3 separate regions of the Homo sapiens genome follow, and regions 1 and 3 are each linked to region 2. Evidence: fine-mapped expression QTL. A gene starts in region 2. Each other region holds a variant in brackets. All regions are shown on one strand. Distances are between the middles of the regions.

What was found.
Region 1: its variant is fine-mapped to the expression of ADTRP in whole blood (TOPMed, PIP above 0.99).
Region 3: its variant is fine-mapped to the expression of ADTRP in whole blood (TOPMed, PIP above 0.99). The same link has a PIP of 0.9 or more in blood mononuclear cells.

Annotation. Positions count from the first base shown.
Region 1 is chr6:11,715,385-11,723,568 of GRCh38, forward strand. It overlaps ADTRP (androgen dependent TFPI regulating protein), which reads right to left. Exons shown (of 6, transcript NM_032744.4): 5 at 7,965-8,116. Among named protein-coding and RNA genes, the nearest start is that of ADTRP, 59 kb to the right of the region's middle. RefSeq lists an enhancer at 6,830-8,029. The variant G/A (reference allele first, on the strand shown) is at 4,238.
Region 2 is chr6:11,775,090-11,783,273 of GRCh38, forward strand. It overlaps ADTRP (androgen dependent TFPI regulating protein), which reads right to left and starts at 3,714. Exons shown (of 6, transcript NM_032744.4): 1 at 3,518-3,714. The coding sequence starts at 3,670.
Region 3 is chr6:11,705,489-11,713,672 of GRCh38, forward strand. ADTRP (androgen dependent TFPI regulating protein) reads right to left here. Exons shown (of 6, transcript NM_032744.4): 6 at 8,035-8,184. LOC340184 (a long non-coding RNA gene) reads left to right here. Exons shown (of 3, transcript XR_001743973.2): 3 at 4,595-4,911. It overlaps LOC124900221 (small nucleolar RNA SNORA67), which reads left to right and starts at 4,331; the gene lies at 4,331-4,472. RefSeq lists an enhancer at 6,152-6,201. The variant G/A (reference allele first, on the strand shown) is at 4,833.

The sequences.
Region 1 (8,184 bases), 60 kb before region 2:
TGACTGGTGACTTGAAGTCCTGTTTGTGGCCCCTTAATTACACTGATTTCCTAGGATGGCCACCTCTTGATCATGCAGTCCTCATGGCTATCCTTGTATTCATCTCATGCAAAATTTTCAAGATCAAAACTCTGTCTTCTTCGTCTGCTCCTCATCAATCTAGACTACCCCAGTCACTTCAGCCGAGGCTTATTGTTTATCAAGCTTTATGGATTTCACGTTGTTTTCATTGGTGTGTCTACTTCTTTCTCTTCTGTTTTTCCCTTTTTTTTTTTTTTTTTTTTTTGAGACAAGGTCTTTGCCCAGGCTGGAATACGGTGGCACAATCTCAGCTCACTGCGGCCTTGAGCTCCTGGGCTGAAGTCCTCCAACCTCAGTCTCCTGACTAGTTGGCACTAGAGGTGCACACCACCATGCCCAGCTTTTTTTTTTTTTTTTTTTTTTTTTTTTTTTTTGCTTTTTTATTAGATACAGGGTCTCACTATGTTGCTCAGGATGATCTTGAACTCCTGGCCTCACCACAAGGGATCCTCCCATCTCAGCCTCCCAAAGTGCTAGGATTACAGGCAAGAGCCACCACCCTTGGCCTTATTTTCCATTTTTGATGTGAATTCTCTCCTCCCTAGTTAGGGCTTCTCTACATTAGGTCTATAAGTACAAGCACAGTACCTCCTTTTTCTGTAGAGTATACTCTGGGCCTTTAATGAATTCTTTTTCAATTAAATAACCAGCTCACATACAAGAGGGACAATATAAACTTGGTCAATATAAACTTCTCAAATTTCTACCCCGCAGTCACTCTGAGGATTCCTAAAACTTTCTTTTATCCATGTTGTTTACCAATCCCCAAGCCCTCAAGCCTAACTGTAATAATAACCTCAGTCCTTCCACCCCAGGTGTTGAGGACTGAAGACTCCCTTCTCCATTTAAGAAATGCAACAGAACACGAAGGTTTGGAGAAAAGCCACCCAGGAGCAGACATGGTGGTATGAAGCTCTGCTGGGGGAGGACAGCAGGTGGTTCCCTCCATTGGATTAGAGTCCTCTGTCCAAAACCAAGTAGCTAGGAGGAACACTCAGAAATGCCCACATACCCATCCACATGCTAGAGAAGGCACTGTTCCCAAATGGGTCTCTGTGGTGCTCCCAAAGTCATTTTATTCTGTAGGGACTCATGTGGCGTGAACGTTGCAAAAATCATGTTTCTTTTTGCTTCTAGCAGCTGGGAATGGCAAGCGGGTCTTAGTCTTGAATTCTCACAGAGCTAAGCAGTTTGTAGGCTTCTTTAAGTCTTCAAAATTTATCTCTGACCATGCTTTTTTTCTTTTTCTTTTTCTTTTTTTTTTTTTGAGACAGGGTCTTCCTCTGTCACCCAGGCTGGAAGGCAGTGGTGTGATCTTGGCTCACTGCAACCTCTGCCTCCCAGATTCAAGTGTTTCTCCCACCTCTCAGCCTCCCGAGTAGCTGGGACTACAGGTGTGCGCCACCACACGTAGCTTTTTTTTTTTTTTTTTGTATTTTTAGTAGAGATGGGGTTTCACCATGTAGGCCAGGCTTCTCTTGAACTCCTGAGCTCAAGTGATCCACCCGCCTCGGCCTCCCAAAGTGCTGGGATTACAGGTGTGAGCCACCGCACCCAGCCTTCTGACCATGTTTCTATAACGCATAGCTGGAAATAAGGAAACTGTTGACTTAATAATAGATCATATATCTTACCCAAACCAAATTCACAAAATGGATTTTAAGTTGTAATTGGAAAATTATGTTTATTATAAATATTTTCTTGATTGAGAAGCATTTTTCCCAGTAGAAAGTATCCTAGTTGGCAGATAGGAAGTTAGATTCACCCCGACTTGTTTTATTCCTTTAACTGCTGTCAGATAGTAGCAAGGGCTAGAAATATTTTTATAGCCCTGATATTTCACCTGATATTCTTGACCAGTTGGTGCTTGGCTGGTGACTTCCAATCGGGCCACTGGAAGCAGATTCCAACAGATTCTAGCCTCCATCTTTGCAAGATCTGAACAGAAACTGCAGGCATGGCCAAGAAATTATTGTTTCAATCAACATCACCATAGATACCATATATAATTATATGCCTTATTATTCCAATAGTTAGAAATCAGGATAAATAAAAACATAGTATTCTCAAAGATTTACACCTATGTATCTACAACCACAAAAATGAATGCCAGGCATTGAAAATTTGAAGAACATTTGCCTAGTTTCAGTGGGCTGACTCAGAAAAGGGCAAGAAAATTGATGGTTGGGGGGATAGCAGGTGTTAGAGAAATGAGATCTGAGCACTGATAGTCCTGTGTTCACACTGCAGAAGTCCAGGGAGGACAGGGAACTGAGGGCTGGCTGGAGAAACTCCTGTGGGAAAGAGGCTGAGGAAGAGGCAGGGAGGGTAATCCACAGCGGGCTCTTTTTGAGTTTAGGGAGATGAAGTTAGGACAAGAAAGGCAAAATGGAGATAAATTTTTGCCATTGACTAAATGCTGCCCCAGTGGGACCATGCTTTAGAAGTACCTGTGGAGTCATCGCATGATAAAATTCTTTTGCTATGGAATAAGCAGAGTTAATAAGACAAACCTCATCTAATTCCTTCATGAATAAAACAAGGAGGTGGATTAGATGGCCTCTAGGCAGCTTTCATCAAGAAAATCTGCCTTTTAAAAAACCTGGTTTATGGCAAATAATATTAAAAGAAAGTTTCCATGTCATTCTGTCCAGGACACACTCCCAGCGCCACTTGGCCAGGCTGGAATTTTCAGCTTACAGTCTGTCCTTAGGATGAGAAGGACCTATGGTCTTAGGGGCCCTGACAAAGGACAGCCTGACTCCTGGCATGTGTCCATCAAGGGGCATAGGGAGAGGGGTCACAGGCCCTGGATAAGCTGACTGTCTCTCCAACCACCCCCACATAGCAGAGGCCCTGCCATTTGGGCCTGGAGGTGTTTAGCCCCTTTCTGTGCCCCATATCTCTTGTGGGATGATTTTCTCTTCCTGAGGAGCTTGTGTGCTGGTGTCAGCATCCTTGTGTGCTATCAATCATCAAAGAAAAAAAAGAAAATTAAGCACATAAGGGGCAGAGAAGGGAGCCTTTGATAGGATGTCCTGATTGCCTCTTGCCCCCAGTCAATGTGGAAGAGAACCTGCCCTGGGCATGCCTGGGTGTTCAGTCATGGTCATGGTGAGCCAAGCTCTCAATGTCTTGCCAGAGACAGCTTCCCCCATCTGCTTCTATCATGGTTTGAAGTTAACATTCCATCTAACTCCTCCCAAAAAGTAGAAATTGAATCTTTCTTGGGGGATGACTGGTCCCAGTAACTGACTCTGTGCTTGCCCAACCCTCTGCCTCATGACACAGAAAGGCTAGCCCAGGGCAGGGAGTGAGATGGTGACAGGTCAGGCCAGGTGGCCCTGAGGAACCTCTTGTGAGCTTTTTGAGCCTCAGTGCATTCTTGAAGGACCTTCCTGTGGGCCATGACAACACTTGCCTCCTTGACGCTCAAAGCCAGTTCCCTGCAACTGAGTGCCCTGGGAGGACCTCATCATACACTTTCCAATTTAACATGTGATTCCCAGTATGGTTTCTTATTGCTGTCCTTCTTGCTCTCTTGTCCATATTCACCCACTGATGTGGCACAGGAGGAGGGAGAAAGTGAGTAGATGTTCAGCTATTGTGACCATCACCACCAACACCCTTCTCAGTCCAGCAGCCCACTCAGGAGAGCACCACACTGCACAAGGATGCCGTAGACAGAATTATCCACATTGGGAGGAGTCCAGGGTCCTGAGATGTAATAGAGCCTTGTCCTCAGACCAGCAGCATCAGTATGTCTGGAGTATGCGTTAGAAGGGCAGAATCTCAAACTGCACCCCAGATCCACTAAATCAGAATCCACACTTTAACAAGATCTCCGGGTTCCCCAAGATCCTCATTTTGATGAGCATCAGAGGCCTATACAGGTTTGAGAAGCGTTGCTCTGTAACAGCGGTTCCGGATCCCGATTGCAAGTTAAAATAACTGGGAAGCTTTAAAAAATACCCATGTCGAGTCACCATCTCTAGAGATATGGATCTAATTGGTCTAAGGCAGGCCTGGGAATTATTATTTTTTAAACTTCCCTAGTGTTTCTGTGATGTAAAAAGCCAAGGTGGAGAACTACTGCTAGAGAGCTACTGTCACATTGAATGGGTCTTGACTGATACTTCGCCTGATGTTCTTGACC[G/A]CTTGGTGCTTGGCTGGTGACTTCAAATTGGGCCACTGGAAGCAGAGATTCCAGTTGTGTCTCAGGATTTCAGAAGCAGAGATTCCAACAGATTCTAGCCTCCAATAGCCTGACCTCCTATTTGCTGTAAGTACCTGAGGACGTGCATCATCTCTGTCCGTCTGCTATCGGGTAGCTGTTACCTTTAATCACTTGCAGCTGGGAAACTGGTAATTTATACATCAACTCAAAGGGGAGAATGAGGGAGAATAAGATGACCAGCAGCAGTGACTAACTGTATGCCAGGTCCTGCTGTAGGCGCTAGATCCTCAGCAAGTCATCTGAGGTTCTCCGTGAGCCCAGGAGGAGGCCACTAGCATTATCTCCACTAGGACAAGAGAAAGCTGGGGCACAGAGACCTTCAGTGTCTCACTCAGTGTCACAGGTACAAGTGGCAGGGCCAAGATAGAGACTGAGGCAGTTTGGCACCAGAACTTTTCTTCTAACCACAGCCCCCGACTGCCTCCCTAAAGCATTCATTTGAATTTCTCCTGTCATCAAAGGGGGCTCAGGCTGTGGAAGGAGGGAAAACATAGGCTTAGCTCTGGCTTTGGACAGAATACGTGGCTATCTATAAGTTTCCAGAACTGAAGATCTGGAGAAAGGCTCACTAGTAGGGGAACCAGTCAACTGAGTGCCCAAGCCTAGACAATATTAAACCTTATGAATACTGGCACAGCAGGAATAGACAGGGATCATCTCAGGCCACCTGGGCTTGGTGGTCACTCTACTTAGAGGCTGTCTGATCACTGAGGAATTGAAGTGCATTGCCACAGAATACATGGTTGGTTTGCGGCCAGGTGAGGGATATACCCTTTTCTTTTTTTTTGAGATGGAGTCTTGCTCAGTCACCCAGGCTGGAGTGCAGTGGCGCGATCTCGGCTCACTGCAAGCTCCGCCTCCTGGTTTCATGCCATTCTCCTGCCTCAGCCTCCCGCGTAGCTGGGACTACAGGCGCCCGCCACCACACCCGGCTAATTTTTTGTATTTTTAGTAGAGACGGGGTTTCACTGTGTTAGCCAGGATGGTCTCGATCTACCGTGGCTTTCTTGATTCCTATTCCAGTGCTCTTTCCCCTGTTTAATACTTTCTGCCCTAACATGCATGTCTTCAACAACTCTCTAACTGGTACGCCTTGTCATCACCCTCCTATACTCCTTAAACTCCCTGCCCAATACTCTACAGCCATTAGAGTCACTCCTTATCTGCTGTCTCCAGAACACCTTTGCAAAAAGTTGTACTTTACACCTAGGAAAAAAGGCCCTTGGATATTCTATTGTCTGCACTGATTGAGGCAACGAGAAAGCTAATGGAAATAGTGGATCTTGAGATGAACAAGACATACCCCTAATTCGTAAGACACCCGAGGTCTAGTGGAAAAACAAATCCCTAAAGCAGTAGTAAAACCGCAGTCATGATAAAATGGTAAGTCTGGTGACTGGGAGGTAAAGGGGGAAGCACTGGGAAGGGCATGAAGTCCAACCTGGGCTGACCAGGGAAGGCTTCCTGGAAGAGGCGAGTGTTGAAATGCATGAGTATGAACCAGGCAAAGACTGGAGGAGACACAGAATCCCGTGGACGTAAGAAACAACATCAACGTGGAGGGAAAACCAGCAGTTTGGTGCCACTGGGGCACACATATAGAAGAGCAAAAGCCAAAGCAGGGACTGGGTCACAGAGGCCCTTGTGTGTCATTCCAAGGGTGTGGACTTTCTTCAGTCAATTGGGGGAAGCCTTAGAAAGTGTTTTCAGTAGAATAGGACATGGGGAAATGTGTTCACATAGGTTATTTAGCTTTCAGCAATGTAAAAGTGTTCACTGCATTGCAACTTTAACAAATCTAATTTTTCTTTAATTCGTATTAAATTATTTATAATTAATAAAGATCTGTTCAAGATTTAATACATTTCTGATCTTATTCTGATGTTAAATAGGACCTTTTACCCTTTCTCTTCTTTAAAAAGTTAAAAATCTAGAAAGACCTCGAGAGGTAAGTACAGTCATTTACAATCGTCTCTTTCTACTTGAAAACTTGCATGTACATGAGGTAGTTGAGGGTCCATATGATGCCAGCTTATCTGTTTATTGAGACCTAATTATAGTTAAAAATTGGATGCAGTACTTAAACAATGAGGCTTGTTAAGAACGTTGTATTGAGAATAGTAATTTCAATAATAATAAATATGATGATAATTTTGTTTTTTAATTCAATGGATGTTTAAAATTCACCATAGAGTAACAATTTAAAAATTAACTCAATACATTATTGAACTCAATACAATTGATTTTAAAAGTTATTGTTCTCTAAGCTCTAAGTAATCAAGTTTTTCTCTGTACTTCCTATATCTTAAAGCTTCTTTAAATATATATAGAGAGAGAGAGATTTGGGGAGGCATCAGAAATCTTTACCCAGAACTTCAAGGAGCCAAAACTAGTTAGAATTATATGTCAACACATCTGAAATGTCAACACATTTTTTTTTTTGCGATAATTTTCTGTGATTTGGAATCCTGATTGGGAAGTAATTTTTAGTATTCCATTTTTTTAAGTGTTTGCTTTCAAAGAGAATTTTGCCCTTGAGAGTTTCTTAAACCAGTCAAATTCTCCAAGAGTAGAAAACATGTGATACATCCAAGTTGCGTGCTTATTTCTCCAGGGTCTCAGCTTCCTCTCAGAAACGCACACTCTGGTACTGAACCTTCTGAAACTGTCAGGTTTTTTTTGCATACACGGGCTTATGTTTTCACACCAGTTCATAGATTGGGCGGAAGATGGCACTTCTGCCATCTCTATTTTGATAGAACAGAATGGCATGTGGGCGAGTGATGTGGGGGACTGGGTGTGACTCTTTGCCATCCTTATATACAGAATCAGGGTAGAGTTCCTGCGCTTCTCCTGGGGTAGGGAAGCAAGTCATGGGTGTTTTACAGCCTGACTTTCTGGTAGTTACTTTTCCAACAATAAAAAAATATTCTGGGGTGGGGTGGGGAGAGAGGAAGCAGGAAGGAGAATGAAATCTTCCATTTTAAAATTAACTAAGTTAAGATGATTTTTTTTTCTTAGGAAGAAGCAACAGGATTGTACCCACCTATAACGAGAAAGCTTAACTTACTGACATATTCTCATTGCTGAAGACTCTGTCTGAATGAGGATTTCAATCTCAAGTCTAGGATGTGATTTCATCTGGTAAATGTCTTATGGAAGGCTGAGGAGCAGCCTAATGAGGTACTGCTGAGTTGGGAGGAGGTGGGAGGAGCTGAGAGGGCTATCTGGACTCACTTCCCTCAAAATGAAACCTTGATATTTTCAAAGCTTGTGTCCCTGGAGCCCTCACTTGGGTTAGGGGGAGACCCCTGATTTTATTTATTCATGCTAGGGATGGTAATACCTTGTTCTCTAGGTCCTGGGCTTTCTAAAGAAGATTATTTTTAGCTCTAAAGTTAAATGACACATTGTTTGGGGGAGGAGGGGAGATCCTTTGATGGGGTCCTTTAAAAGAGTGCCCCACCCCCAACGCTGTCCTCTTGCCTTGGCAGGACCTCTTGGCAGGACCTGTCTGAGTACTTTGGACAAAGACAGTAAGCATCATTGCTTCTGTTTGCGGCTAGTTTTTCTTTCTGTTTCCAGGTGAAGGGGAGAGGCAGACACGGAAGAAGCGCATCTGTAGCTAAGAAAGAAATACACTGACCCCATTTCCAGTGGTTGAGCTTCTCTCCAAGTAGGTAGATGCTGGCGATGAAGACGTAGCTGAGAGAGAAGAAAGCTGCTAGACCCAAGAGGCTGAGTTTGGCAAACACAGGATACACCCAGGTACCCGTCTCAAAGTAGAGCCATAGGATGCTGCAGGAAATAAGAAGTCGTGGTGGTTATAGCAGGAGGAGAAAAACAAGCCATTTTCTCATCAGGAT
Region 2 (8,184 bases):
GCTGGGAAGATGGGGCATGCAGCTCGGGGAGGGAGAAATAGTAGCCATGAAGGGGAAGGGGGTGGATGACTCCTGCTGGCCTCCACCCCGCAACAACCTAGGTGCTCAGTGAGGAGACTGATGTTCTACTAAGTCACCCTCCTGCATCACCTTCTCTACCCAGAGAAGTTCACCATCACCTCCCCATCTTCTCTCCCCACTGTCCACTGCCTAACACCCTGCTGACGCCATTCTGAGCGCTTCCCACCTGTCAGATCATTTCTCCCCCATGGCTACCCTATGGTTAGGTACTATTTTTATTTCTATTTGACAGACGTGGAAATGAAAGACACAAAGAAGTGCCTAGCCCAGGGTCTCGGGGGCAGTAAGCAGTGGGACTGAGGTACCATCCCAGAGATCGCAATTGTAACCATTGTGAAATACCACCTCTCCCTCCCAGCAGGGAATCAGTGGCCCCTTCACTGAGGTCAGTTTACTCTCTTATTAGGCAGAGACTCCCATCTGTCCTCTCCTACCTTCACTCTCCTTAGTCAGAAATGGGTCACCCTGACCAATTCTCAATGGCACCTTAGCCACTACCACCAACCCCAGGGGAGTAGCTCAGTGCAACTCGTGTCTGTCTCCTGTCTCCTGTCTGTCTCCCCTTCCAGTCCCCTGGGATAGCTTCAAGGGGAACTGGGGCAATGCTCACAGTGCCAACTGGCACAAAAGGGGGCTTTGCTCTTACAAAGGGGACAAAAATGATACTCAGCCAATTAGAAATTCAAGCTGTTTACGAGGAGGGGTGTAAATTTTCTGGTAATCAGGACTGGATACTAACTTCCCCAAGGTGAGGTAAAATAAATATAAGAATGTGAGCGTAAGTTGTGAGACCTTTATGACTTAATAAACACAACCACCAATTAATTAGTCATGAATGAACACTAATTAATCATTAGGAGACACAACCATTAATCAGCCCATGAATCTCAAGAGCTAGACATTTGCAGGTCCAATATTTCACCTTAAGCAACATATTCGAAATCTACATTAAATCGATCCTCTGAAATACACTCAACCCATCTTCACCAGTTGGGAAGCATTTCATTAGGTCACACTTTCAAGATGACTCCTAATGGAGCTCAGAAAGAAAATCACCACAGGCAAGCCCCTCTCAGCTTATTTACGAGGGCCAGAAGATACCAGAAGAGAGGGACTGCTTGAGGATGCAGAAAGGCTGAGGTCACGTCAACGTACCAAGTCGCAGCTTTTTAATATCTGGGTATCCTGTGCCAGCCACTGTGCTGAATTCAAGGTAGAAATATAGACAGTTAGGGTTGGCAAGGACCTAAGATTAAAAAAAACTTCTGTTTTGGAGCCAAAGTTTGATTGGAATGTTAAGACTCACATGGCAGGGAGAGAGGGAATTAGAAAACAATACTACATATAAATCAGCAGAGACTGAGAGATGCTGTGAAAATCAGAGAAAGGAAAAGGAAATTTGGACTGGAGTTGGTCAGCAAGGATTTGGGAGGAGTATATGTGATTCCCAATGTTCTATGAAAGAAGCAATGTGGTGGAGAGAGGTAAGTAGGCCTTTCTTCTAAGGATAGAGAGAACACCGGGCAGAGAAGTGACAGCAGGAAGCCCAAGGACCAATACTAGTGAGACGCAGTCCTTACTGCAGAAGAGACCAGCCTCCCAGGGAGAGGGAACCCGAAAGGCTGGTTGGGCAGGTGAGCTCTTGAATCGGGAGTTTGACATTGGGTCCATGAGGCAGGAGGGAGCCACTGTGGTTTCCTGAGCGGCAGGCCACACTTTTAGATCCAGGTCATGGTATTAAAAAACAAACCAAAACCAGTGCTTTGAGAAGATTAATTTGGAATCTAAGTGGCTGGATTGGACCATGAATGGACAGTAAAGAGATGATATGGTCATCCAGGTAGGCTTAATATAAGCCTGGAATGAGAGAGACAGTAGTAAGGTTGAAGAAGAAAGGATGAACTTAGTAAAAGGAAAAACTAATAGGATTTGGTAGCTGATCAATCAGGGAAGCAAAATTGGGATTAACACTAGGAAATGATAGTATCATTGACAAGATAAGAGACTTTTCTCACTCTTGGAAAATAAGGGCTCTTGGAAATGTAGGTGAGCTAGAATTAAAAAGTCAGGATCAGTTGTGTGTGTGTGTGTGTGTGTATACAAAGAGGTAAGGGAGCTAGTTAATGAGTGTGGTGATAAATCTATTCTTAGCCACACATAGTGTGAGGTAGGACATTCATACTGGAATTGGATTTTATTAGAAAGTCAGTCCTAACTACAGACACACTTCCCTTTTAGTGGACTGTTTTTCATAGAAAGCCAATAGAGACACAAACCTTAGGGGTGTGTGTGTATGCGCGTGTGTGTGTGTGGTTTTTTGTTGTTGTTGTTTACTGTGGCACTGCTAGTTATACAAAAAACATTTTTTGTTTTGTTTCTGTTTGTTTTTCTCATAAAATTCCATGATTGAAACAAGTAGTCACCTTGAAGTTTTCAAAGACACTAGAGCTGTGTTCAGGGTTCCAATTTTTCAGGCCCAAATCAAGAGGCCACTAACCAACCAGTGAGGAGGAAGCAGCCACTTTGGGCCTCTTTGATTTTAACTCTCTCCATTTCCACGTCCTTAGCATTTCAGAGTGTCACAGTTTCTGACCACATACATTCTCCGCTTGTCAAATGAGGATTACAATTCTGAAAACAGATGTTTATGTGGCACCCAAGATTTTAGTCAAAAACCTCAAATATTAATTCACATCCCCAAATGATTCCCCATTATTAGCTTTTAACTTTAAAAGTATTTTTTTAAGCTATTCCTCAAAGTATTTTTCATAATCTGCTTTTCTCCCATTCATTCACACTTCATCAGAATGCAGTCAGCCAGGTTAGGAAGACAAGAAAGGAGTAAGTCATAAGATTGGTTTTTAAATAGTTGAAAATGTGTATTTGCCATTCGGTTGGGTGATTTGTCCTTTAAGATGGAGCCTGAACCTATAAAAAATTGAGGTGGGAGCTGAACATGGCAAAATGTGTTTGCTTTTCTTAGATAAATCTGTTAGTCTGTGTGTGCTGTAAAATGGCATTATTCCTTCATTGGAAATTACACTTCCTACACACCATACGCCACTCTGCCTTCTCTTCACAGACTTCCCCAAGCAAAGTTCAAAATGCCTCCTGCATTTGTAGTTAATCCCATGGTGAAACCATTAGCATGGTCCCCTCTTTGAGCTCATCTGAAAAGAGCTCCAAGATGAGATTTTTTTTTTCAAGAGAGCATTTAACAATGAGCCAGCATAGAAATGTTAACTATAGATAATTTCCAAATTGGGTTTATCAGAGCAAATTGTTAAGTAAACAAAAAACCCAAAACTCACAAAACGGTGAAGAAGGAAGACAAATAACAAAATTGTGTATTTAATAAAATCCAAAGATGATATGTGTGGCAGCACTGATATTCTAGAGAAATGGATCGGTTCCTGGTACGGACATATGGACTTACCAGATTAAGCAGCGTCATATATTTCCACCTTGCACCATTTGCCAAGATTTTGGGTTTCACCTCGTCTTTTCCTTCCTGTGAGATGTAATAATTGAGGAAAGTATACCAGCTCAGAACAAGGAAGTGGTATATGCATGTAGAAGTCTTCGTCATGGCGAGTGCTGACCGGGGCACCGTGAATGTCTTGAGTACTTTCTGGCGTCCTTCTGTGGGTCACAGCCTAAGTCCAACAGCAGGCCGGAGAGCTACAAACCACACCCCTCTGGGACTGAGAGTTCCAACACAGGCTGAATTTGGTTCTCTTTTAAGCTCCTTTCCTGATAAACTTCAGAGGCAGGATTACTGCTGGTTTTCAGATGCCTGCATTTAGATAATGATAGATAATCTGTAGATTTGCATAAAATACAACATGTGGGCTTTGAGAAGGGCAGGTAGCAATGCAAGAGCTGTACATTGTACTGTTTCACTAGGGCACTGGGGCAGGGGCATGGTTAAATGAAGTAAGCATGAAATACTAGGAAAATCTAGCGAAATACTTCCATGGCTGTAGTCTCTTTTCTTTTCATTTGCATATAACAAGGAAGTTGCAACCTTATCTCTTGAGAAAAGGAGGAGCAGGTTGATAAACCAGATCATGGGTGTGCTTAGGGCATGAACAGTAGAAAGGAAAAGTGTGTTGTAATTTTGCTCCTGAGGTCTCTGAGATTCTAGAAAGTCTGCAACAACCTTTGATCCTCCAGGGAGCAGCTCCAATGGTTTCTTTTCTTTTTTTTTTCACTTTTGTAACTATACCCTAGAGAACCAAGAGTAACCCAGGGCTGTCCTAGACACTCCATTTGCATAGGCATTTCTGTGCCCTGGGAGGGAAGAAGCAGCACAGGAGACCATCCTTACTATGGCCATGACCCCAAAATACCTGACTTTAGACATTGCTGGGAGAGGGTGAGAGTCCCCGCTCTGCCATGAATAGGATGAGACGTGGCTGGGCTAGGCAGCATGCCGGACTAGGCTCTGACTCAGGTTCCACAGAAGGGAACTGAGGAAGAACTAGAAGTGGATGCCTTGTGACATCGCCAGCTTGTTTCCCTGGGCAACTGACTCCGAGGGGTGAGCAAATCCCTCAGAGAAATGCTCCTGACACAGTTATGTAAGTCTGTAATTGGTGCTTTTCAATGACTTAACCAGGGCTTAAAAGTACTAGCAGAAAGAACTGTAGGCTGGACAAGGAGGACAAACCATAAACAAACCCACCTCCTAAGAGTCAACAGACTCCCAATATCAGGATTGGGAGATGGGAGGAGAGCAAACCTGAGCCCGCCATGGAGTTCTGCATTGTAACCATGTTTTTTTTTTTTTTTTTTTTTTTCATCTGTTGGGGCTGCTATAACAACATACTGTAAACTGGGAAGCTTGGAAACAACAGAAATTTATTTCTCAGTTCTGGAGGCTGGAAGTCCAACATCAAGATGCTGACAGAGTGCCTGGTGTTTAATGTGGGTCGGTTTCCTGGTTCATAAATAGTGCCTTCTGGCTGAGTCCTCATGTGGTAGAAGGGGCAAACAAGCTCCCTGAGGCCTGTTTTATAAGGTCACTAATCCCATTCATGGAGATGCTGCCCTCATGACCTAATCACCTCGGAAAGCTCCCCTCTCCTAATGCCATCACCCTGGGAGTTAAGATTTCAACATAGGAATTTGCAGGGAACACAAACATAGACCATAGCAAACCATTCTCAAAGGAAGGGGTGATCTGGGAAATGGGTACATAAAACTCTGTACAAAACTCCACAGCCTGGGCTAAATTGCAAATAATAACAGAAGCTAATACTTTTATAGTACTTACTGTTTGCTAAACATTGTTCCAGTTGCTTTACACATATTAGCTGATTAGCACTCTAAATAACACTATGAGGTAAGTACTATTACGAATTAAGTACATTTTCAGATGAGGAAATTGAAGCCCGATCTGCTAAAAGGATGTGTTCAACACTTTGTAAGAGGCAGAGCTGCCGTCTGAACTCAGTGTGATGGTTAATATTGAGTGTCAACTTGATTGGTTCGAAGGATGCAAAGTATTGCTGCTGGGTGTGTCTGTGAGGGTGTTGCCAAAGGAGATTAACATTTGAGTCAGTGGATTGGGAGAAGCAAACCCACCCTCAGTCTGGGTAGGCACCATCTAATCAGCTGCCAGCGTGGCTAGGATAAAGCAGGCAGAGGAACGTGGAAGGACTAGACTTGCTGAGTCTTCCGGACTTCATCTTTCTCCCATGCTCTCAGGATGCTTCCTGCCCTCGAACATCGGACTGCAAGTTCTTCAGCTTTTGGACTCCTAGATGTATACCAATGGTTTGCCAGGGACTTTCGGGCCTTTGGCCACAGACTGAAGGCTGCACTGTTGGCTTCTCTAATTTTGAGGTTTTGAGACTCGGACTGATCCACCACTGGCTTTCTTGCTCCTCAACTTGTAGACGGCCTGTTGTTGTGATTGTGTGTCACTTCTTAATAAATTCCCCTTCTTATATACATACATCCTATTAGTTCTGTCCCTCTAGAGAACCCTAATACAACCAGTGTACCTGCCTACAAAGGAACAATGTTGCTCTGCACACTCTCAGACTCCCACTTTGATATTTCTCCTCTCCCTACTGAGTGCCCCTTTTTTTTTTTTTGAGATGGAGTCTCGCTCTGTCGCCCAGGCTGGAGTGCAGTGGCGCGATCTCGGCTCACTGCAAGCTCCGCCTCCCGGGTTCACGCCATTCTCCTGCCTCAGCCTCCCGAGTAGCTGGGACTACAGGCGCCTGCCACCACGCCCGGCTAATTTTTTTTGTATTTTTAGTAGAGACGGGGTTTCACCGTGTTAGCCAGGATGGTCTCGATCTCCTGACTTCGTGATCCGCCCATCTCGGCCTCCCAAAGTGCTGGGATTACAGGCGTGAGCCACCGAGCCCGGCCGAGTCCCTTTTATTCTTCTCTCCTCTCATCAGAAAATTATCTCAGAAAAGGATCAATATGTTTTGAAACTTGGTGCACATATGAATGAATGAATGTCTCCAAGGGTGTTTTCATTTTAGACACCATTGTTGATTTAGAGGTTTTATTCCTTTATACAAAAAAAAATCTCAAGTCTAAGTCTGCAGATGGGTAAGGATTGACGCAAAGGTAGGAAAGGAGGGGAAGACAAAGACCCAAATCTCTGAGATGTGTGTGTCCAAACCTGGACACTGGCCTTTCACCACCTAGATGGTTTTTTTCTCTACGTTAGCCTCATTGCCCACAGATGGGGCCTCTCATAAATATTGATAAAATTATTTAAATTTATTTGTAAGAGTTTTAGTGTTTTACATTGGGATCCAATGAATTGTTAGCATTTTAATAAATAATGACATTAATATATAAGGATTTAATAACATGTAATATCATTTTAATACATATTAATAATTAATAAAATGATATTTTAATAAATAACATGTATATGTATATAAGGATTTAATAATTACATGTAATATATGTATATAAGGATTACATTATGAGTTAAGGATTATGAATTAAGAAATAGTTTTATTTCTTAAGAAATATTTTAATATTTTAAGAAATAAAACTATTTCTTAATTCAACATCTGCATTTTCTTATAAACTTTTCACAAAATTGTTGCCAATGAAAAATCTACATTGCAACCATATTCACATCATAATTTGTGTTCCTGGTTGAATAACCAGATCCATTTTCATGAAGTAGCCTGAACATCTGTTCCCCACCATGAGACCAGGTGGAGCTTTGGAGAGCAATGAATGTCACCTCTTAGTTGCACGTTATAAACTAATACATACTAAGCGTGCTGTTTGTCTGCCTTTTCCTTTCTCCAAGTATCTGAGGGCTTCACGTCATATCCAGGAGAAGTGGGAAGGAATTGTTCAAAACTTTTATTATTTTACACAGGAAATTTTAAACATTTAAAAATAAGCATATTTCATACTTTGATTTGGATACTACACAGGCCACTTGGTTACTAAGAGTGACTTTCTTTGAAACTCTCTACCCCCCTGGGAGTCCGCAACATGATTCTTTAATTTCACAAATACTTATTAAGCAACAGCTATCTGCTAGGTCCTGGGGATTCCCCGAGGAAGAAGAGCGATGCAAACCCTGCCCTCATGGAGCTTATATTTTAGCAGGAAAGATGAACATTAAGCAACAACAAAAACAAGTGTTAATTTATAACTATGGCAACTTCTGTGAAGGACAAACACAGCAGACTTATTAGAGGGGATGGCAGTATCAGACCTGGTGTGGGTAGGGCGTCAGGGAAGCTAGCCCTAAGGAAGCCACGTATGAGCAAGGCTTATTCTCCCAACATGCTCTTACTATCCTTCTCAGTCTGTTTAATGAGCTCCTCTTCCTCCACCAGCTCCTTCTGTGTTGGCATTCCCCAGAGAGCTGGTCCAGCTTACCGTCCGTCTCCCAACACATACTCACCCTAGTGATTTTATCCATGATCATAATTTCTACCACTGCCTTCCAGTTTGTGACCACAAATTATATACCTCTGGTCCAGGCCCTCTCCCTATCCCCACCAAGCTTCAAACACATCTTTGACTACCTGTTGGAATCTCCTGAAGGAGACAGACACGCCTCAAACTCCATACGTCTAAAACGAGCTCACTGACTTC
Region 3 (8,184 bases), 70 kb before region 2:
TGGTTCTTTCCTTCCCCTTGATTTGAGGATTACATGGAAATCCACATTGCTGAGTGGGAAAACTCTGAATTGGTGTCCAGCAGTTCTTTTGGCCTCTTCCTCTTAGTTTGGTGATATGTGACGGCAATAAAAGGTCATGATGGCAGGATGAGTCTGGAAAAGGAGAAATACTGGCAGTGATACTGCAATCTATTTTGCAAGAAAGAGAATTTTATTTAACCACATGATTTTAAAAATTGGCAAAGTTGCCGGGTGCAGTGCCTCACGCCTGTAACCCCAGCACTTTGGGAGGCCAGGGTGGGTGGATTCATCTGAGGTCAGGAGCTCGAAACCAGCCTGACCAACATGGTGAAACCCCATCTGTACTAAAAATACAAAATTAGCTGGGCATGGTGGCACACGCCTGTAATCCCAGCGACTCGGGAGGCTGAGGCAGGAGAATCACTTGAACCCAGGAGGCGGAGGTTGCAGTAAGCCGAGATTGTGCCATTGCACTCCAGCCTGGGCAAGAAGAGTGAAACTCCATCTCAAAAAAAAAAAAAAAAAATTGGCAAAGTTCAGTTAATGTATATATATAAAATGACAACATAAGTGCATTTTAGAATGTAGCTAGAAAAATTTTAATAAGGAATAAAACATGTCTAGATGGGAGTCTTCAGAATCACGTACCAGATTCCTGGCAAGGTATTGTAAAAGTCATACAGTACATGTTTTCCTAACTCTATGTCATCTAACTTCATTATTAGAATCTTAATAAAATTTAGTGTTGAGTGAAAACAAATCCCTAAAGTGTAACCAAATATATTTGCTCAGGCCAGACTTAAGCCTCAGCGGAAGGTTTTGTAAGCTCTTACGGTGGAAGGGATCTTTTTCTTCTTCCTGTTAGCATCTCAGAGGAGCTGAGTCTAGCAGAGCAGCTGCTAACAGAGGAAGCTGGGAAAGCCAGGCTTGGCGTCCCAAAGGAGCGGCAAGATGAAAGCATGCAATCCTCCATACAGGCCTGCAAATGCCAGGTGGATGACCACCATGTCCTTACACTCAGGCCATGGCATGCATATGGCCAGGGACATACATTTAGTAGGCACTGTATAATGAATGAACGAACCCTACAGTGTGGTGGAGTGCAGTGTTGTCCAACTTACTGAACTAAGTTGAACCCTATCCATTAATTTCTTATTGGATTAAGAAATTCATTATTTTTTAATAACACTATTATTGGATTAAGACATCAATTTCATGGTCACGACATATTTTAATGGAATAGGAAACAATATCCTAGAAAATAAAGGGGTATGTCACCCATATTAAAAGCAAGTATGAGTTTATGAAACTTTTCACACAAGTGTGTGTGTTATGAGTGTGTGTGTTTCTACTGGATTATGATGTAAAATGTATTTCTGAGGGTATCACTTAAGAAAGATTGAGCACTGTTGGTGGAGTGGAAACTATTTGAGGCATTTGGGTCAGATAGATCTTGATTTGAATTCCAATGCCACTGTCAGACACTGAGCGTGTTACTTAAATCCATCTGAGCATCACATATGCATTTAAAGTCAACCATATGGTACGCACTGTGCTCAATGAGGGAGATACAGTGGTGAGTAGGACATACTCCTGTCCTCAAAGAAACACAAAATATGCCCTTAATAAGTGTCCACCTCTCTTCAGCACTTCAGTATCTCTGTGACTGGTTGGTAAGACAGATGTCTGGATAAAAAGAGATCTTGGAGAATCTCAATACTGCTTGAGGTTCTTCAGGAGCCCAGGAATCCTAATTTTTTCTTTGCTCTGTCTTCTTTCTTCTTAAGCATGGCAACAACTCATAGGTAGGAAAAGCTGTCATACTCATGCATTTTGAGGGAAATTTGAGAAATATCAATACCCAAAGCTTCTACATGGAGCCATTCATGTTATCCAGTCTTTGTTTCCAGAATCATCGTAGGACCCTGATGAGAGTAGCACCAACTCTCCAACATAAATTCGAGAAAATGAAAAAGTGGCATTGAATATCTACACGGAACTTCAGAAATACAACACACACACACACACACACACACACACTCATACACACAAACTCATGAGCAATCATAGTAATTTGAACAACAACAAAAACCATGATGTTGAAATTTGGAGGATGTAGAACCTAAGAGTCTAAGAAAGATTAATTTATGCTACCAACAAACACACGTTTAAATTGTGGGAAAAAAGCATGGTGGCAACGCAACACTACTCTCTCAAGACACAAAGCAGGTCAGACGTGGTGGCTCACGCATGTAATCTCAGCACTTTGGGAGGCTGAGGCAAGCAGATTGCTTGAGGCCAGCAGTTCAAGACCAGCCTGGCCAACATGGTGAAAACCCGTCTCTACTAAAAATACAAAAACTATCTGGGCATGATGGCACATGCCTGTAATTCCATCCTCTTGGGAGGCTGAAGCATGAGAATTGCTTGAACCTGGGAGGCAGAGGTTGCAGTGAGCCGAGATTGCACCACTGCACTCCAGCTTGGGTGATAGAATGAGACTCCGGCTCAAAAAATAAATAAATAAAAGACATAAAGCAAGTTTAAATTCCTGTAGTGCCAGCCAGATAATCAAGGCTGGAAACAGAGTGGCACATCACAGCTCTGTCCCCTCTGTCCACCCCTCCAAGGGCACGCAGAATTTAGTTGACCTACCAGCTGCCAAAATCATGGGCCAACTTCATTTTGGGGTGCTCTACCCACCAAGTAGCTCTCTCAGGGAGGGGTGCAGAACAATCATAACCTGCATCTATTGGCAGCTCACACGGTGAAAAATTATGAACTAGGCAAGTTTTGTCCTTGGAGTCTGCAGCTGACCCTTCCGCACCTGTTCCTTTACTAACAATATCCTCATTTTCGCTCTGCCAAGCACGCCCTCCCTCACATTAAAACTTGCTTTCAAATCATCAGATATCCTTCACTGAGAATTGAACATGCATGAGTTTCATAGGTCACTTCTTTCAGAAGTATTTACATGTTAAATCTGGCTCTCCATATGAAATGGGCGGCTTTATTGGTGAAAGAATTTTTTTGTACATTAGCAAGATATTTAGGGTGGCAGTGAGAACAGAGGCCCTTTTCATGGCCCCGAAATAACTACACCATGCAAGAGGCTGACGACATCATGGTAACGATGATGTGCTAGTCAGACTAGACTGGGCCTTAATGATAAACACTTGCCATCCGTCAGGAAGGGGTGAGAAGTCACCTAAGGTGAAATGAATTATGATGTAAACAAGGTTTGTCTTCAACATCCCCCCACCTCCTGTTTAAGGATCAGTCTTCCGGACTGGGACCCTAGTAGCTCATAGGCTCTCCTTTGAGTCATTAGGGCCATCTAGTCATCCACTCTAGAGCTTCCCTGCACGCAAGCCATTTATCCTCCAGGCCACTCCTCATCTCCTTCTCCTTTTCATCAAATGTATCTGCTATGCGTCCTATTCTATCAATGTTCATTCACTACCAGTCCACATGAAACTGCAATTTGCTCGTCACTGTAAATAGAATTGTGGTATGTAAGATGGAGAGAGTATCTGAAATGAAACAATAACTCTAATGTTGAGACTATCAGCTTCCAGGGAAGCCTAGGGTGGAAGATAACTGGTGATGATGCCTGTAAGGTTAAGAAGCTATAAGGAATCCTCAAGTCCGCCTGTATTTTTGAGTACTTTCTAATGGTGCAGAGTTAGGCTTTGTTGGAGATATAAAGAGGTAGACACGGCCCCTCATCCCGGGAGTTTGCAATCAAGCAGGTGGGATGGTGAATTAGGCCATTCTTGCATTGCTATAAAGAAATACCTGAAGCTGGGTAATTTATAAAGAAAAGAGGTTTGATTGGCTCACAGTTCTGCAGGCTTTACAGGAAGAATGGTGCTGGCATCTCCTGGGCTTCTGGGGAGGCCTCAGGAAGCTTACAATCACGGCAGAAGGTGAAGGGGGAGCAGGCACGTTATATAGTGAGAACAGGAGCAAGAGAGATGGGAGGAGGAGGGGCCACACACTTTTAGACAACCAGATCTCGCCAGAACTCACTATGGCGAGGCCAGCCCCAAGAAGATGGCATTAAATCATTCATGAGAAATCCACTCCCATGATCCAAACACCTCCCACCAGGCCCCACCTCCAACACTGGGTATCATGATTCAACACGAGATTTCGAGGAAACAACACCCAAACTATATCAGACGGAGATCTTGGGAGCCAGGCACTTGCATCCACCACTTTAAATAATCTTATTATTTAATTGTGGTGGTATCATTATCTAACTTTGCAGACAAGGAACCAAGGCTCAGAGGAGTAAACTATTTTTATCCAAGGTGAGTCTCTCTCCAAGGGGCTGACTAGTGCCTCTCTTAGGACAGTAGCAAGTTGGAATAAAATCTGGCATGCCTAAGGTCTTTAAGGAACAGGGGATGCTTACTTCTTTTGCGTTCCTCTGGCGGCCTACATAGCATACTTAAGCTCCTTCTGGATAGACTGTGTCCTCTTATTCACATGCTGAAGTTGTTATATATTTTTAAACAAATAAAAAGTGAATAATACATTTTTCTAAAAAGTAACTGATTTTCTCTAGGTTCCATACAGATAGCCAGCCATGGGAGTCAGAATTTGAACTCAGATCTGGTCTGGTTCTGAAGCCTCTCTTCTTTCCAGCTGTGAGACAAAGGAGCAAATATGAGAAGCACCTTTTGCTCACTTCTGCTTGCCAGCAGAATTTCACAAAAGCCCTGGACTGTGAAGATGTTTGGAAAGATGCTTTGAAGACAAAACCTTTAACAGGGTTAGTGTTTATGCCTCTGTAATCTACAACC[G/A]GATGCGCTCTTACACCCAAGCCTTGATGGGATTCTGCTGCGACGGAAATTCTGAGCAAATTTGATGTGATTGTGCAGGTACTGAACCTCCACTTCCTGTCTGTAAGCAGTGGGCTGAAATCCTGGGCTGGAGCAGTCTCATAGGATCTGACAGGCTGTTGCCAGGCTGTAGGCCTTGGTCTGTAGTCCTCAGTAAGACTTCTGAATACAACTAACTTTAATTCTTTAAAAGCTTGACTGTTTTCTTTAGTCGGCATGGCATTCCATACCATTCCAGAAACAGAAGCCAGGAGGATACGTGAAGGAGAGAGCAATGGCATAGTGTGTGAAGCTGATTAGCTGTTAACTAGCAGAACTGAGAGAAGGCAGCCGGCCAAATGCCCCGGAGGGGCAAGGAAAAGCTTTTTCAGAGAGTTGGGAAGTGGCACTCCAGTGAGGTCGGAAGCCATGAAGGTTGACTTATTTATTCCACAGTAGCTACAAGAAGAGGGGTCTTTCTAGGGAGTGTGACCAGTTTAAGCAAAGGCTTGGGAGGAGGAATAATAACGTGCTGGAAGTGGGAAAGGGGACCTGGTTAAGGGGCTGAAAGTTATTCCTTGTGGATCACCTTCTCATCACACGCTCTTTGACCTCATTGTAGTTCAATGGAGGGAAAGAGAGTCAAAAGCAGGAGGGAAGTTTGTTTCTAAGCGGACAGGGGCTCAGCAAACCCAGTCTTCCCCGCAGTCTTACCTGGAGCCATTGCCTGGGGAAGAGGGTGTTCAGGCCACAGTATCCCAAGGCTGGGGGCACCTTTGCTCAGAAGCCCCCTGTGGTGCTGCTCCTCAAGAGCCTCCTGGGAGGAAGGGCCAGGGAGCCAGGCGGTTCTCCCTTCCCCTTCTGGAATCCTGGCCAGTTTCCATGTACATAACCCAGCTTAATCCATAGAAACAGGAGCTGCAAGGCATGTTCTTTCTCTTTTTTTCCTCTCCAAGACACGGAAACCTTTATTTTCTCCCTACATCACAAACCGGTACTGTTAAATAATATTGGATAATTGCACCTGTCGTACTCCCCATATTGTGCTGGGGAAAAATAATTGCTGGTTTTCTGCTTTGCCGTTTAGCTGTGACTCCGTCATTTGACTCGGAGCATGTCATTTTCTCCCATTTTAGACCGTGTACAGTCAAACCCTGTGAAAGGACTCACAGATAGCGGCCCTGCGTGTATGAGTGGGCGCGGGCCTCATTCAGCAACGATTTCTAATTTATACAGCATTGAATATCCACAGCTATAAATAAACAGTTCTGACTGGCTTTGCTGCCTACTCAAATGCTTTATTAAAAAAAAAAAAGTCACCAGCAACTGCATGAGAAAGGAAAACAAGAATGTCTGGATGTGGATTCTGGCTTCTGAATCCTGGGCTTGGGAGTGGAGACGCCCCACCTTGGGAGCGGCTCAGTGCTCAGCCCCTCCAGTTTTTGGAAGGCCTGGCCTCCTCGCTCCTCGCTCAGCCCCTCACGCTCCCCACGTGTGGGTGCAATGTGTTTGGGGATTACAGTATATGAAACTGGCTTCCTGTTATGACAAGTATTGCAAGTGAGTAGGTGTGGAGGAGCTGAAAATAGCTTAAGAAATGTAGGACCCTTCTGGGGAGAGAATGGGGTTAAGGCATTGTTTAGGCAACAAGACGAATCTTCTACCCAAATTCAAAATTGGTTTCAAATGTGAGACAGCAACACTGGAACAGAAGCATGAGTATAGGCCAGTCCCTGGGGTAGTGGTGGCAGCGTCCTTCCTCCTCCTGTAACGGGGACAGTTTCCACCAATTTGGGATCTCTTGACCACCTTCTTTTGTCCAGCTCTGCAAGATGTGGACACATTTCTGTTTTGTTTTTTAAATAAAGTTTTTGGATGACCCGGTACTGCTTTGCTCTGTAAGAAAGAGGAAGGAAAGTGGGCTCAGGAGTCAACTATCCATGTGACCTTGGACTTGTCATTTCCCTGCTCTGAACGCAGAGGTGTGCTGGAGCCAGTTTGCACAACAGGCTCTCGAGGACTAAGTGGTTGTCCACATCTCTTCCCAACTGTACATTCAGCAACGTGCTGCCAGCTTGAAAAAGGCCATGGGGAGAGTGTTTACACCATGGAAATGAGCACACATTATCAATCAGAGCCTGACATCTTTTCCCCAGAGAGCTGGTTGTTAAACCTTTCCCAGCACACCACCCTCAGAAACTCAGTTTGCTCATTTGTAAAATGAGAACGTAACTCATCTCCTACTTACGAAGTTTCCGTGGGCTAGAATAAGTGGGAGTGGTGATGAATTACTTGACACTACACAAATATTGCTGGTATCATCATGTGGTTGCTATAGTTGTCATTTTCTATTAAGGGCCTAACATAGTGCTATGCAATCTGCAAATACCATATACCTTTTAGCAAATGTTTAATCAGTGTGTTATTGTTTTGTTGTGTATCTTTTCTTAAGCTACTGCAGCACCGAGCATGCCCTTGTGTGCTTAGGCATGTGCTCAATGGGAAATTGTTCCGAGACATTTCTAGTGTTGGAAGAGATATTGCACAATGGCCAGGCATGCTGCAATCAAGGTTTAATTTGGTCCTAGGGCCAGTAAAGCCACAAATAGAAATTTGCAGGCTCATCCCCACCAAGAGCTTACTGTGACTGAGAGTTACGCAGCCCGAGTCACCTCTGGGGTGTGGAACATTTGGGTGATCCCCCGAGGGCTTCACGTTTGGGGAATTTCCACTGTGGCAACTGTTTCTGAGCTCCTGCTGAGACCAGGTGCTTGGAGCAGTGAAGAGGCAGCAGTAGATGTGGGGAAAGAGGTGGTATTCCCAGCTCCAACTGGAAAAGACTTGAGGCCCATATTAACAGAACAGTAGAAAAAGAAGTGGGAATTAAGCAGGTTTCTTGGTGCCTGCCCTGGTCTTCCCTTAGGCTGCCTTCCCACCTGAGATATTCTGTCCTCTTCTGTAACCCTTCAAGACCACTCTTGCTCATTTTTACCAGATTTCTCCTACATAATGTTAGGTTGGGAAGTCCAAGTCCAATTTCCTTCAGTGTCCACACCCCAACCCATATGAGCCTAGTGACATACTAGTAGACTCAAATATGTCTACCCACCAATAGCCATTTGCCATTTGTGTTCTTTAAAAAATGTGCCCACAAATAAAGGCCAGGAAAATAACACTAGGAAAATCACAGCAGGGATCATGAATCCTTGTTAAGCATCTGGAAATCAGCTTTGTTAAACCACACACTAATTCAGAAAAGTGCTTTGTAGCAAAGCAATCTCAACAGCCCTTATAATTCTATCACTTCCCATCCAGATTCTTCTGCAAGCAAAAT